Homo sapiens: one gene and its partners. The protein of the gene in region 2 interacts with the protein of the main gene of each other region in a pairwise test. Each region holds a gene or a part of one and is shown on either strand. Other genes may lie near its edges. The genes, in order: CCNDBP1, GSTK1 and FAM9B.

Region 1 (3,749 bases), on a different chromosome or scaffold from region 2:
GAAGGAAAATAGTTAACATGGAGCATTGTCGAGTCCATGCTAGTTACCTTTAGTTACATATTCTGATTCTGTTAAAAAAAGAGAGAGACCTGGTTAATGGTTTAATAACCATGGTCTGTCAGTTGGTCTGTCTGTCTCTCTCCCTCCCTCTCTTTTCTGTAAAGGGCCAGTTAGTAAATATTTTAGATTTTGTAACCAACTACCCAACTCTGCCCTTATAGAGCAAACACAACTACAGACATTAAAACCAGTGAGTATGGCTGTGTCCCAATACACTTCATTTCCAAAAACAGGCAGTGGGGCCTGACTTGGCCTGAGGACCACAGTTTGCCAGCTCCTGGTCTAAGATATCATGAATATCTTGGGATACAGAGTATCAGGAATAAGTTTTTTCCTGCTGTTTCTTAATGGTTTATTGAGTTGTCAGCCCAATATCTACTATATAGCTAACTCCTCCCTGGTATGTGATGAGTATAGTAGGCCTGCCTTCATACCAGGACTTCAGAAAATGTTTGATGATGCTGTAGAAATATCTGCCCTAGGCCGGGTGCAGTGGCTTACACCTGTAATCTCAGCACTTTGGGAGGCCAAGGGAGGTGGATCACCTGAGGTCAGGAGTTCGAGACCAGTGTGGCCAGTGTGGCAAAACCCCATCTCTACTAAAAATACAAAAAATTAGCTGGGTGTGGTGGCGGGTGCCTGTAATCCCAGCTACTTGGGAGGCTGAGGCAGGAGAACTGCTTGAACCTGGGAGGTGGAGGTTGCAGTGAGCCAAGATTGCGCCATTGCACTCCAGCCTGGGTGACAGAGTGAGACTCTGTCTCAAAAAAAAAAAAAAAAAAAAAAAAAAAGAAAAAGAAAGAAAAGAAAAAGAAAAGAAATATCTGCTCTATTCCACAGCAGAAGGGTTGACCACTTTGATCTAATCTGTTTCCTTTTTCATAGGAAACCCAGAAGTTCTGTGAACAAGTCCATGCTGCCATCAAGGCATTTATTGCAGTGTACTATTTGCTTCCAAAGGATCAGGGTAAGCCACATAAGTGTTGCATTTATCGTGTAGATCTTTGCTAATATTGTGGATTATGTCTTGTGACTTTTACCTTTACCCAACTTGAACATGTAACTTTCTCCCATAAAATACAGTGAAGGATAATTTTGTAATGTAAGTGACTTATATAAACAAGCCATTATTCTAAGATACAGATGCTTTGTTCCTATGACTTCCCATCTCCCCTGCCTTGCCTGACTCATAAGGCTTTTAATTCTCACAGCCTTCTCCCTCTTCAACCCGTTTTAACACCACAGATACTGGCTGGCTCTCAGCCCCATATGCAGGCTCAGGCCATCCTTACTTTCCTCCACCCATGTTATATCTCACCCTATTTCTGAACATCTGCATAGGTTAAATGGCCTCCAGCCCTGCCTGTAGAATCATGCATTGATTATAATCATGCCAAAATTATAACTGAATACATGTCATGGATCTTCAGGGTTACTCAAGTGGCTTAAACTTCAAGTGTTTCATCTACAGTTGTTAAGAGATCACGGTCCTTAATGAATGAATACATGGTGTCACGGAAAGATTTTGTTCCAAATCTCTTTTGAAGAAAACACTAAGGAATGGCAGGAGGGGCAAGAAAATGCCATGGGGATATAAGTAAGACCTGAGTTTTGTGTTAGCATGTAGGTTAAAGCATGTGGGTGTACATTACCTTATAGTTCTGTAATGCTTAGACTCAGGAAAGCAGATGGTGCTTCTGAAAAGAACACCAGGTTGCTTATTCTTTGGGTTTGGCCACAGGGATCACCCTGAGAAAGCTGGTACGGGGCGCCACCCTGGACATCGTGGATGGCATGGCTCAGCTCATGGAAGTACTTTCCGTCACTCCAACTCAGAGGTAGTGATGCCACAGTTTAGGTTACCAGTTATTGGGGTTCCTTGCCTCAGAGGGGAAAAGCTCATTTTAACAGCAAAGTTACTGACAGCTGAGAGTAATGACCAGCAGGAAGAAGCTTTTTAGGAGACAGGAACCTAGGTTATTAATATATCCTTACTGATTTCTTTCCCCAGCCCTGAGAACAATGACCTTATTTCCTACAACAGTGTCTGGGTTGCGTGCCAGCAGATGCCTCAGATACCAAGAGGTGAGTGAAAGTGGGCAGTGGGCCATGTCTGCTGGCCAAAGCAAAGAGACCTCATGTCTAGCTTCCAGCTTTGTAACATGTATTTGAATTTATATAAACAGTCTAGTGAAATATATATATTTTATTAATGAAATTAATAGGTAGGTATTAATACTTTTTGTCATTCTCTAGTTATCATACTTCTAAATTCCACTCCCCCTTGCTGTGGCTGTCTCTTGTTGAACAAGTATGGTTTGTTTTCCTAGTCCTACCCCAAGAGTAGTATTATGGAGCACACTGAAGCAGTTATGAGGTAGAGACAGCTAGGCCAAAACAGTGGTTGTCCAAGAGGACCATGATGATAAACATCATGTGACCATTTTATTTCTTCTTGTGAATAAAATACAAGCTTTTTAAACCCCTATCTAGATACCAGGGGATGTAGTGAGAATTTTTTATTAAACCCGCACCCTTGTCAACCGTCCTTGGCACTCCCATCAATAGGAACAATGTGATTGTTCCTTGCAGTCATAAGAAAATTGTTGGATTTCTCCTCTAATTCTAGTGCTTCTGATTTTTCACTCATAGATAACAAAGCTGCAGCTCTTTTGATGCTGACCAAGAATGTGGATTTTGTGAAGGATGCACATGAAGAAATGGAGCAGGTGAGGGGACCTCCATCATTGGAAGGCAACTCCTTGACTAGTAGATGAGAATTAATTATAAAGAGAGATTTCCTGAGCATTGACCAGATAGGTCCCATTCTCACTACTGTCCTCTGTCTTCCATCTCCCACTGCTTGTTAGTGTTTGATTTAGTACCACTCCTCTGTGTTCCCTTACTGGACAAGGAGAGCGAGAACAGGGTTTATGAAGTGATTCAACTCTGTAGCCCTTAGTGAAGTGGCTGGCTAAGATTTTTGGACAACTAAGACATCGTGGTAAAAGTATAATAATAGGCCTCGCCTTTTTTTTTTTTTTTTTTTTTTGCATTCACATACATCATGGTATGTCTTAGGCTGTGGAAGAATGTGACCCTTACTCTGGCCTCTTGAATGATACTGAGGAGAACAACTCTGACAACCACAATCATGAGGATGATGTGTTGGGGTTTCCCAGCAATCAGGACTTGTATTGGTCAGAGGACGATCAAGAGCTCATAATCCCATGCCTTGCGCTGGTGAGAGCATCCAAAGCCTGCCTGAAGAAAATTCGGATGTTAGTGGCAGAGAATGGGAAGAAGGATCAGGTGGCACAGCTGGATGACATTGTGGATATTTCTGATGAAATCAGCCCTAGGTAAGCGGGATCCCCACTTGAAACATCTGAGCAGCAGCGTTCTGATTTCAATTTGTGTTGTCACCTCAAGGTTTTCACAGTTTTTTTATATTTTGAAATTTTTCAAACCTATAGGAAAGTTTAAAAAGTACCTTCAGTGAACACCCCTATATCCTTCTATTAGATTTGCCTGTTGTTCACATTTTTTCCTATATTGGTTTATTTCTCAAGAGATACTGTTTCATATTTATTCCAGAATGTTTTGAGAGTAAATTGCAGACAGCAATGACATTTCACCCCTAAATACTTCAGTATGTATCTCCTGAAGTACTCTTATTCCTACTCTTA
Region 2 (3,749 bases):
GCTCCTCCGCCCTCAGCCTCTCACCCAAGGTTCCCATGACCTATTTGCCTGCTCTTCTTCCCTTTCATGCCCGGCAACCTTCAGCTCGCTCAAGGCTGATCCTGAGGTTTCCCAAGGCAGGCTTCACTTGCTTTAGTCTCCCGCAGCCCCTCCATCCTATCAATCCCTCAATCTCCGACTTCTGTGTTTTTCACTGGATACCCTGTCTACATCCCACTCTCTTCACCTTTTTCAAGCATCACAGACAAGAAATCCTTGGGGAAGTGGATGGGAATCTGGAGATGGTGTCTCAGGAGCTTTAAGTCATTTGCCATGTATAGTCCTTTGCGGGGAAGCAGACCTGGAGGCTTGTTTCCTGCCAGGAGAAGGTTGGGCACGCTAAGTGAGAAAAGACCTAAGGGTCCCAGGTTTGGGGACCTCGACGTGGGTTTTGGGCAGAGGGCAGCTTCCTTTTTTTTCTCTTGTTGTTTCGCTCTTGTTGCCCAGGCTGGAGTGCAATGGTGCGATCTCAGCTCACCGCAACCTCCGCCTCCTGGGTTCAAGCGATTCTCCCGCCTCAGCCTCCCGAGTAGCTGTGGTATACAGGCATGCACTACCACGCCCGGCTAATTTTGTATTTTTAGTAGAGACGGGGCAGAGGGCAGCTTTCTGGCTGCCAGTGCCAATATAAGGACCCGCTGGGGTCGGCTCTCTTGGGCCACTGAGATCACCCCTGCCCCGACCCTCCCTTCCTACCACTGTCTTTCATGATCCCTGTTATGAGGCTGGGCCGCAACTGCAGGTTGATGTTCCAGATATTCTGATACCGGCACAGGATCTGCGGGCAGAGGTCAAGAACGATTGCCAGTGTGCAAGATGGAAAAGTGAAAGAGCCGAGGGAAAGGGAAGGGAGGCGCTAAGTGCAGAGCAGGGGTTATGCGGACACCCTACATTGTTTGGTTTGAAATTGGCAAAACTCTCCTCACTACTAGAAATCTATTCCAGGATCTTCGCTCCTGTGGCCAGTTTTCCCCAAAACTGCCATCGTTGGGCTAAGAGGTGGCCGTGTTCTGCATTTCTCCCTGAATGTTTGGAGCCGCCCCTCTTTCCACCACCGTGGGAAACTGCAGTCGGGATATAAAGGCTCGGGTTGGAGCCAGCGACTCTATTCCGTTTAAAAGCACAAAGTGACCTTCAGCCCCGGAGCTCTCCCTGCTTGCCTTAACCCCTTGGGCGGCGCCAGGAGTTACACGAGACCTCTGTCCCGGAGCCCTGCGCTCACTCTTCCCTCCGCCCTCACTCCCCAGACACTGCCGAGGCGACCCCTCCCAGCGTCACCTCGAAGCCCAGCCAGGAGTAGGGGGACAGCACGTCATAGAAGAGCTCCACGGTGCGCGGCAGGGGCCCCATGCTGCAGGCTCCGGAAGAGCAGTGGCAGCAGGAGCTCCTTTTCCCGGAACCCGGCAGAGGCTGCCCAGCTTCTGGGCCTGCCTGGGACCGCCCACCGCCTTAGCGCGCAGCCTCAGAGAGAAACTGCCCTGGTAGAGGTCCACCTCCGGCGCAGCGGGGCAGGGCCAGCCTACGGCCCCCAGCCAGGGGCGGGGTGGGTAGGGACCCCTTGGGGAGCGCGCAGGTGTGGACAAGGGGCGCTGCAATCGCCTTTGCAAAAATTTTAACAGTGAGAAAATTACGAAGGTGAAACAGATCTGAACTCACCAACTCCATCGTGCCTTTAACCTCCAAACTGCCCTTGGTCATTCCTGAGCATGGGACGAGCTAATATAGGGAGAAATTTAGTTTATAGTTTAAATGATAATAGCCCTTCCCCAAACTAAACCAGTTTTATAAAACTAATAAAAGTCCACAAGTTTAGGATTATGAGAGGGGCCTGAATTCTGCTAAGATGTAGGCATTAACAATTACCAGACATTGTTCCAGAGGTCACAAGCTCTGCAACTTCCCCAATTATTCCTGTAAATAACCACTTTTGTAGAACCTAAGACTGGCCTTTGAAGATACCTTCTCAGACTTTTCCATTTCTAATGACAGGATGACTCCACCTGGACCAGTGACTCCTCTGTGGCCCGCATCCAAATGCAACTCGGTGCACTGAGGACGGTTTTCCACACCCCTGTGATTGCATCCCCAACCAATTAGCAGCACCCATTCTCTAGCCCCTTGCCCATCAAACTATCATTAAAAAACTCTAGCCGGCGGGCATGGTGGCTCACGCCTGTAATCCCAGCACTTTGGGAGGCTGAGGTGGGTGGATCACTTGAGGTCAGGAGTTCAAGACCACTCTGGCCCACATGGTGAAACCCTGTCTCTACTAAAAATGCAAAAATTAGCCGGGCATGGTGGCATGTGCCTGTAATCCCAGTTACTCGGGGGGCTGAGTCAGGAGAATTGCTTGAATCCGGGAGGCAGAGGTTGCAGTGAGCCGAGATCATGCCACTGCACTCCAGCCTGGGTGACATAGCAAGACTCCCTCTCAAAAGAAAAACAAAAACAAAAACAAAAAAACCCACAAAGTCCCCTAGCCTCTGCCTCCGAATTTTGGGAGGCTAATTTGAGTAATAATAAAACTCTGGTCTCCTGTTTAGCTGGCTCTATGTGTATTAAACTCTTTCTCTATTGCAATTCCCTTGTCTTGATAAATTAGCCCCATCTGGGTAATGGGCAAGATGAACCCATTGGGCTGGTGTCAGGGTGACTGTCCTGCTCTGCAGTGGAGTCTTGTGGGAAGGGGGTAGTTTGAGATGCCTGCAGTGCCTTTCACTTAGCTGTGCCCCTTGGGTGAGCCACTTGACCTCTCTGAACCTATTTCCTCATCCTGCATACACATGGGGAATATCTAATGATAACACCTGCCTTATGACGAGTTGTGAGGAATGAGGTACTCCAATAACTGCTAGCTCTTATTATTGTTGCTTGGCAGTTGCATGAATCTCCTAAACTGGGGCAGAATAAGAAGTTCTCAGAGTACACATTTTCTTGTGTTACCTTTGTCAGAGATTTGCACAATGTCTGGGACACATTTGACCATCGATACATATATTTTGAGTGAGTGAAAAAAAAGAGGGACTGGTAGAAGATGGAGAGGCCTCACTATAGATAATTTTGGTGATAATGGAAACGATTGGCCCTATTCGTTTTCACAAATATGTGAGTCATATTGTCTTATATTGGGATTACATTTACTGCAAAGAAACAGAATTTTAAAATAATTCCATTTAACTTTGTTAAAATTATTTTTAACATTACTAATTTAATAAATTGGAAAACATATAAAGATTCCACTTTTCATTTGTATCAATAAGGAAAACAACTCCAGGCTATCAGAATACAGAGATACGAGGTAAACCCCTACATGGAGAAGAGCATGCAAAATGGAATGAAAAATGATGTTATCATTACCTACTTGCAGAGTAAACTAATTGTTCAACAACCACTGAAACTAAACTTTTTTTTTTTTTGAGATGGAGTCTTGTTCTGTTGCCCAGGCTGGAGTGCAGTAGCACAATTGCAGCTCACTGCAACCTCTGCCTCCTGGGTTCAAGCAATTCTCTCTGCCTCAGCCTCCCAAGTAGCTGGGATTACAGGTGCCCACCACCACGCCCAGCTAATTTTTTGTGTGTTTTTGGTAGAGATGGGCTTTCACTATGTTGGCCAGCCTGGTCTTGAACTCCTGACCTCAGGTGATCCACCCATTTTGGCCTTCCAAAGTGCTGGGATTACAAATGTGAGCCACCACAGCCCACCTTGTTTTT
Region 3 (3,749 bases), on a different chromosome or scaffold from region 2:
GCATAGAATAGAACAGTGATGACATGGTCCAAAGCTGACTTTTCCTAAAAGACCCTATCCGACAGGCAAAAGTGACTTAAACACTTTACCCCGTGTGTTCATCTGTTTCAGCAAAAGGTTCTCTTTCCCCATGCTCATCAGTTACATCTTCCTCCCTTGTTTCTGTAAAACGGTTTCTTTCCTCACATTCATCACGGACTGGATCCTTTCCTGCATTAAAATGTAAAAGACAAACCTTTTTTAGAGGAAGATGCTGCTGTGGACATTTTTTGTGGAGAAATGTACTAGTTGTAGACTTTTTTGGGGGGGGGGGGCTCTCTGCCAATTAAAGCTTTAAAGCAGAGCTATACATGGAATCACCGGTTCCTGACCATTTTATCGAGGGACTTTTGGAAGCCCTTCGGGTTCAGGTTCCAGTAAACAACGTACTACAGTTCAGACCCCTTGGATGTCAGGACTGCACCCATGGAGAAGAGCTGCTCTGAGAGCATCTGTAACCCTGCTATGAGGGGGAGCCTTCCACGGGGAAGCCTAAGGCCCTTGAGCCTGCTTTGAAAACCTGGCGCATCTTAGCACGTGCACAATGGACTCCAGAGCCACGAAGGGGCCTGGGGCCTCGGGCTGCCCCTGTGCCCCCAGCGCAGAAAGCAGACAGACCGTCCTCTTGGGCGTGCACCTTCTTCTGGGTCCCCTTGGGCTGTATTTACCTGCATGCTTCTTCCCCCAGGCCGCCATAAATTGAGCCTCCAACTGGGCCTTGGCAGCCCTCCTGCCCACAGGATCCGTGGCTGGTTGTCCTGGGAAGCTAGAGGCGATCCCCGAACCTGGTGAGCGCAAAGACACACTAAGGAAGCTAAGGAAACCTGGCATCGGAAAGGAAAGCCATTGGGATCACAGGTTCAAGAAGGGTGGGGCTGGCCCGCCCTGGGTCTCATGTGGGAGCAGGAAGGGACGGAAAAGATGCCAGTGTCCCCTCCTGTCCTGGCCCGTCCAGCCCGTCCCCGGGGCTGGCTGCAAAGCTCACAGCTGCCCCTCACACCTGAACTCCACGGCCTCTGCGGGATCCTCGCCGCCCTTTTGGGACAGAACTCAGCCCTACCTCTGAGTCACCTAGCGACCCCATGTGGCTGGGAGGGCCGCTGGGTGACACAGGATCTCCCCAGCCACCTCTAGGGGAATGTCAGGGGCTGCACTGCCACTCGCCCCCCTGGACGCACAGGGGACCCCCGGTGACCCCCGGTGACCCCAAGTGTCCTGTCCTGTCGGGCGGCCAGGCAGGAGGGCCCCACTCAGACTGTCCCCCACAACACCCCCGCCTCACTCCCACTTCTCCCCCCCTCGGCCCCTCCCCCCAACACATGCACAAGCCCCCAGGACCCTCCCGGGCCCTAGGGATCACCCAGGCAGCTCCAGCTCCCTCCCTGCCCTGGCCCACCCCAGCCCACCCTAGCCCACCCTCAGGGCCTCGCCCTGACCCAGGCCCCAGGCGACGACGCTGGGGCCATTTCCTCACAGGTCGGCGGGCTGCCCAGCGCTTCACACCCTGGTTCCCAGAGGGCCTCGTGCCTGCGTTCCCGCCTCCCCACCACGAGTGCTTCACCTGAGGGACCCCTGATGTGGCGCCCTCAAAGAACCTGCAGGCAGCGGCACCACTAGGACCTCTTAGAAAACGGGTCCTCTCAGGAAGCTGAGGCAGGAGAATTGCTTGAACCCAGGAGGCGGAGGTTGCAGTGAGCCCAGATCACACCACTGCACTGCAGCCTAGGCAGCAAGAGCCAGACTCCGTCCCAAAAAAAACAAAACAAAAAAACAAAAAAAAAGAAAAGTAAAGAAAACGGGTCCTCAGTTCTCGTGAGAGCTGCAGGCAGGACTTCCTGCGCTCCTCGCTGATTGGTCGGCTCAGTGCACATGCGTGTGACGGGCTGTGTGGGGCCAGGCCCCCTGCTGGCACGCCCTCACCCTTCCCCTAAGTGACAGCCCGTGGTTGCTGTGGACTGGGGTGGGGGTGGCCCTTTGGGGCCTCTGTCCCCACAATCTTTCAGCTTCTCCTCCTGGGGAGAGACACAAGGACTTGGGATGGAGGCCAAGTGGACAGGGCCTAGAACCTCGCCCTGGGGCTTGTTCCAGCCACCCCTGCCCCTTTGGCTAGAATGGCCATCACCCTGTGGGTGGAGCCCAGGCTCCCTCCCATGCCCTGTGTGCTTCCAACATGCCCAGCTGCGTCCTTTTTAATCAATGGATTGTGCTTTTATCGTTTGTGTTTGTTGGTTTTTGAGACTGAGTCTCACTCTATTGCCCAGGCTGGAGTGCAGTGGCAAGATCTCAGCTCACTGCAATCTCCCCTTCCCAGGTTCCAGCGATTCTCCTGCCTCAGCCTCCCGAGGAGCTGGGATTACAGGAGCCCAACACCACGCCCTGTTGTTGTTGTTGTTGTTGTTGTTGTTGTTGTTGTTGTTGTTATTATTATTATTGCATATTCGGTAGAGACAGGGTTTCACCATGTTGTCCAGGCTGGTCTCGAACTCCTGACCTCAGTTGATCCGCATGCCTTGGCCTCCCAAAGTGCTGGGATTACAGGCGTGAGCCACCGTGCCCAGCCCATAACCTTTTTTGTTTCCTCACTACTTTTCTTTCTCATCCTCATGCCCCAGACTTGCCCACAAACCTTCATACTCCAGACTTATCCAGACATATGCCACAACCTTCACCCACAAATTAATGCCTTAATACTTATCGTTAACTCAGCTTTTTCCCACCTCCGATCCCCTGTAATAGGGAGAGAGTTGTTTCGGAGTTGGGAGTGAATAAATATTGCCTAAAGTTTGTAAATCAAGATACAGAGTTTCATTATACTATTGAAATTATAAAGGCAGTCATCAGGAAAACTAATCCACAGCCTTAAATGCCTATATAACCAAAAAGAGCACACACAAAGCATACAAATCCTGTAGTAAAAGTTGGAAAATAAAGAAAATACTACAGAGACCATAACATAACATAAAAGAACAGAATTAAGGCCAAGTGAATCTGTTGAGCAAGAAATATGAATGAGATAAACTCGCATTCTAAAGGAAATGACTTCCAACTTGGATCAAAATAAAAACCTAAGTATATGCTGTATGTAAGAATGGAATTAAACAAAATGATACAAAAAGTACATATCAGAAAAATATGAAGAAAAGGAAAATATGGATCTGAGAATTGATATCTCATGAATGTAAAATAATGCAAAAAATAAATGAATAAACTAAAGGCAGAGTACACTGAACAAGAGAAGGGCACAATCTACTCTGACAATCTCACATGAATCATTTTGTGCTTAACACAGCATCAATGTGCCTAAACCCAAAACCGTAGAAAATAAAAGCAAAACAATCAATGAAAATGAACAGTGATATGAGAGTTTAAGCTCCGTCTGTCCAGGAGAGACCAAATACAAATGTATTGTCTTGGATACAGGCATAGTATCTTAAATTGCTCTCTTGGCAGTAGAGTGAGCATTTTCTTTCACTTTCAACCAATGAACCCTCACCACATCCTATAGTACTTCCTTGGCCACTACTATCTTCTATTCTACCTACAGTTTCCCAAAAGATTAAAAAATTAGAAAGACTTCATTCTCAGCAAACTATCGCAAGGACAAAAAACCAAACACCGCATGTTCTCACTCATAGCTGGGAATTGAACAATGAGAACACATGGACACAGGAAGGGGAACATCACACTCCGCGGACTGTTGTGGGGTGGGG

What was found.
Region 1: the proteins of GSTK1 (region 2) and CCNDBP1 interact in binary tests that used the Homo sapiens proteins (3 or more experiments, as listed by UniProt).
Region 3: the proteins of GSTK1 (region 2) and FAM9B interact in binary tests that used the Homo sapiens proteins (3 or more experiments, as listed by UniProt).

The regions. Positions count from the first base shown.
Region 1 is NC_000015.10:43,188,254-43,192,002, forward strand, and holds part of CCNDBP1 (cyclin-D1-binding protein 1), read left to right. Parts: intron 1-940; exon of another isoform or gene 941-945; coding exon 946-1,027; intron 1,028-1,801; coding exon 1,802-1,898; intron 1,899-2,071; coding exon 2,072-2,145; intron 2,146-2,712; coding exon 2,713-2,789; intron 2,790-3,141; coding exon 3,142-3,422; intron 3,423-3,749. UniProt on the Homo sapiens protein: May negatively regulate cell cycle progression. May act at least in part via inhibition of the cyclin-D1/CDK4 complex, thereby preventing phosphorylation of RB1 and blocking E2F-dependent transcription.
Region 2 is NC_000007.14:143,261,154-143,264,902, reverse strand, and holds the start of GSTK1 (glutathione S-transferase kappa 1), read right to left. Parts: upstream 1,463-3,749; 5' UTR 1,390-1,462; coding exon 1,318-1,389; intron 818-1,317; coding exon 736-817; intron 356-735; coding exon 227-355; intron 1-226. UniProt on the Homo sapiens protein: Glutathione S-transferase that catalyzes the conjugation of glutathione to exogenous and endogenous compounds. Significant glutathione conjugating activity is found only with the model substrate, 1-chloro-2,4-dinitrobenzene (CDNB).
Region 3 is NC_000023.11:9,032,252-9,036,000, forward strand, and holds the start of FAM9B (protein FAM9B), read right to left. Parts: upstream 1,877-3,749; 5' UTR 1,601-1,876; intron 1,033-1,600; exon of another isoform or gene 871-1,032; coding exon of another isoform or gene 736-870; coding exon 708-735; intron 211-707; coding exon 90-210; intron 1-89. UniProt on the Homo sapiens protein: May play a role in meiosis.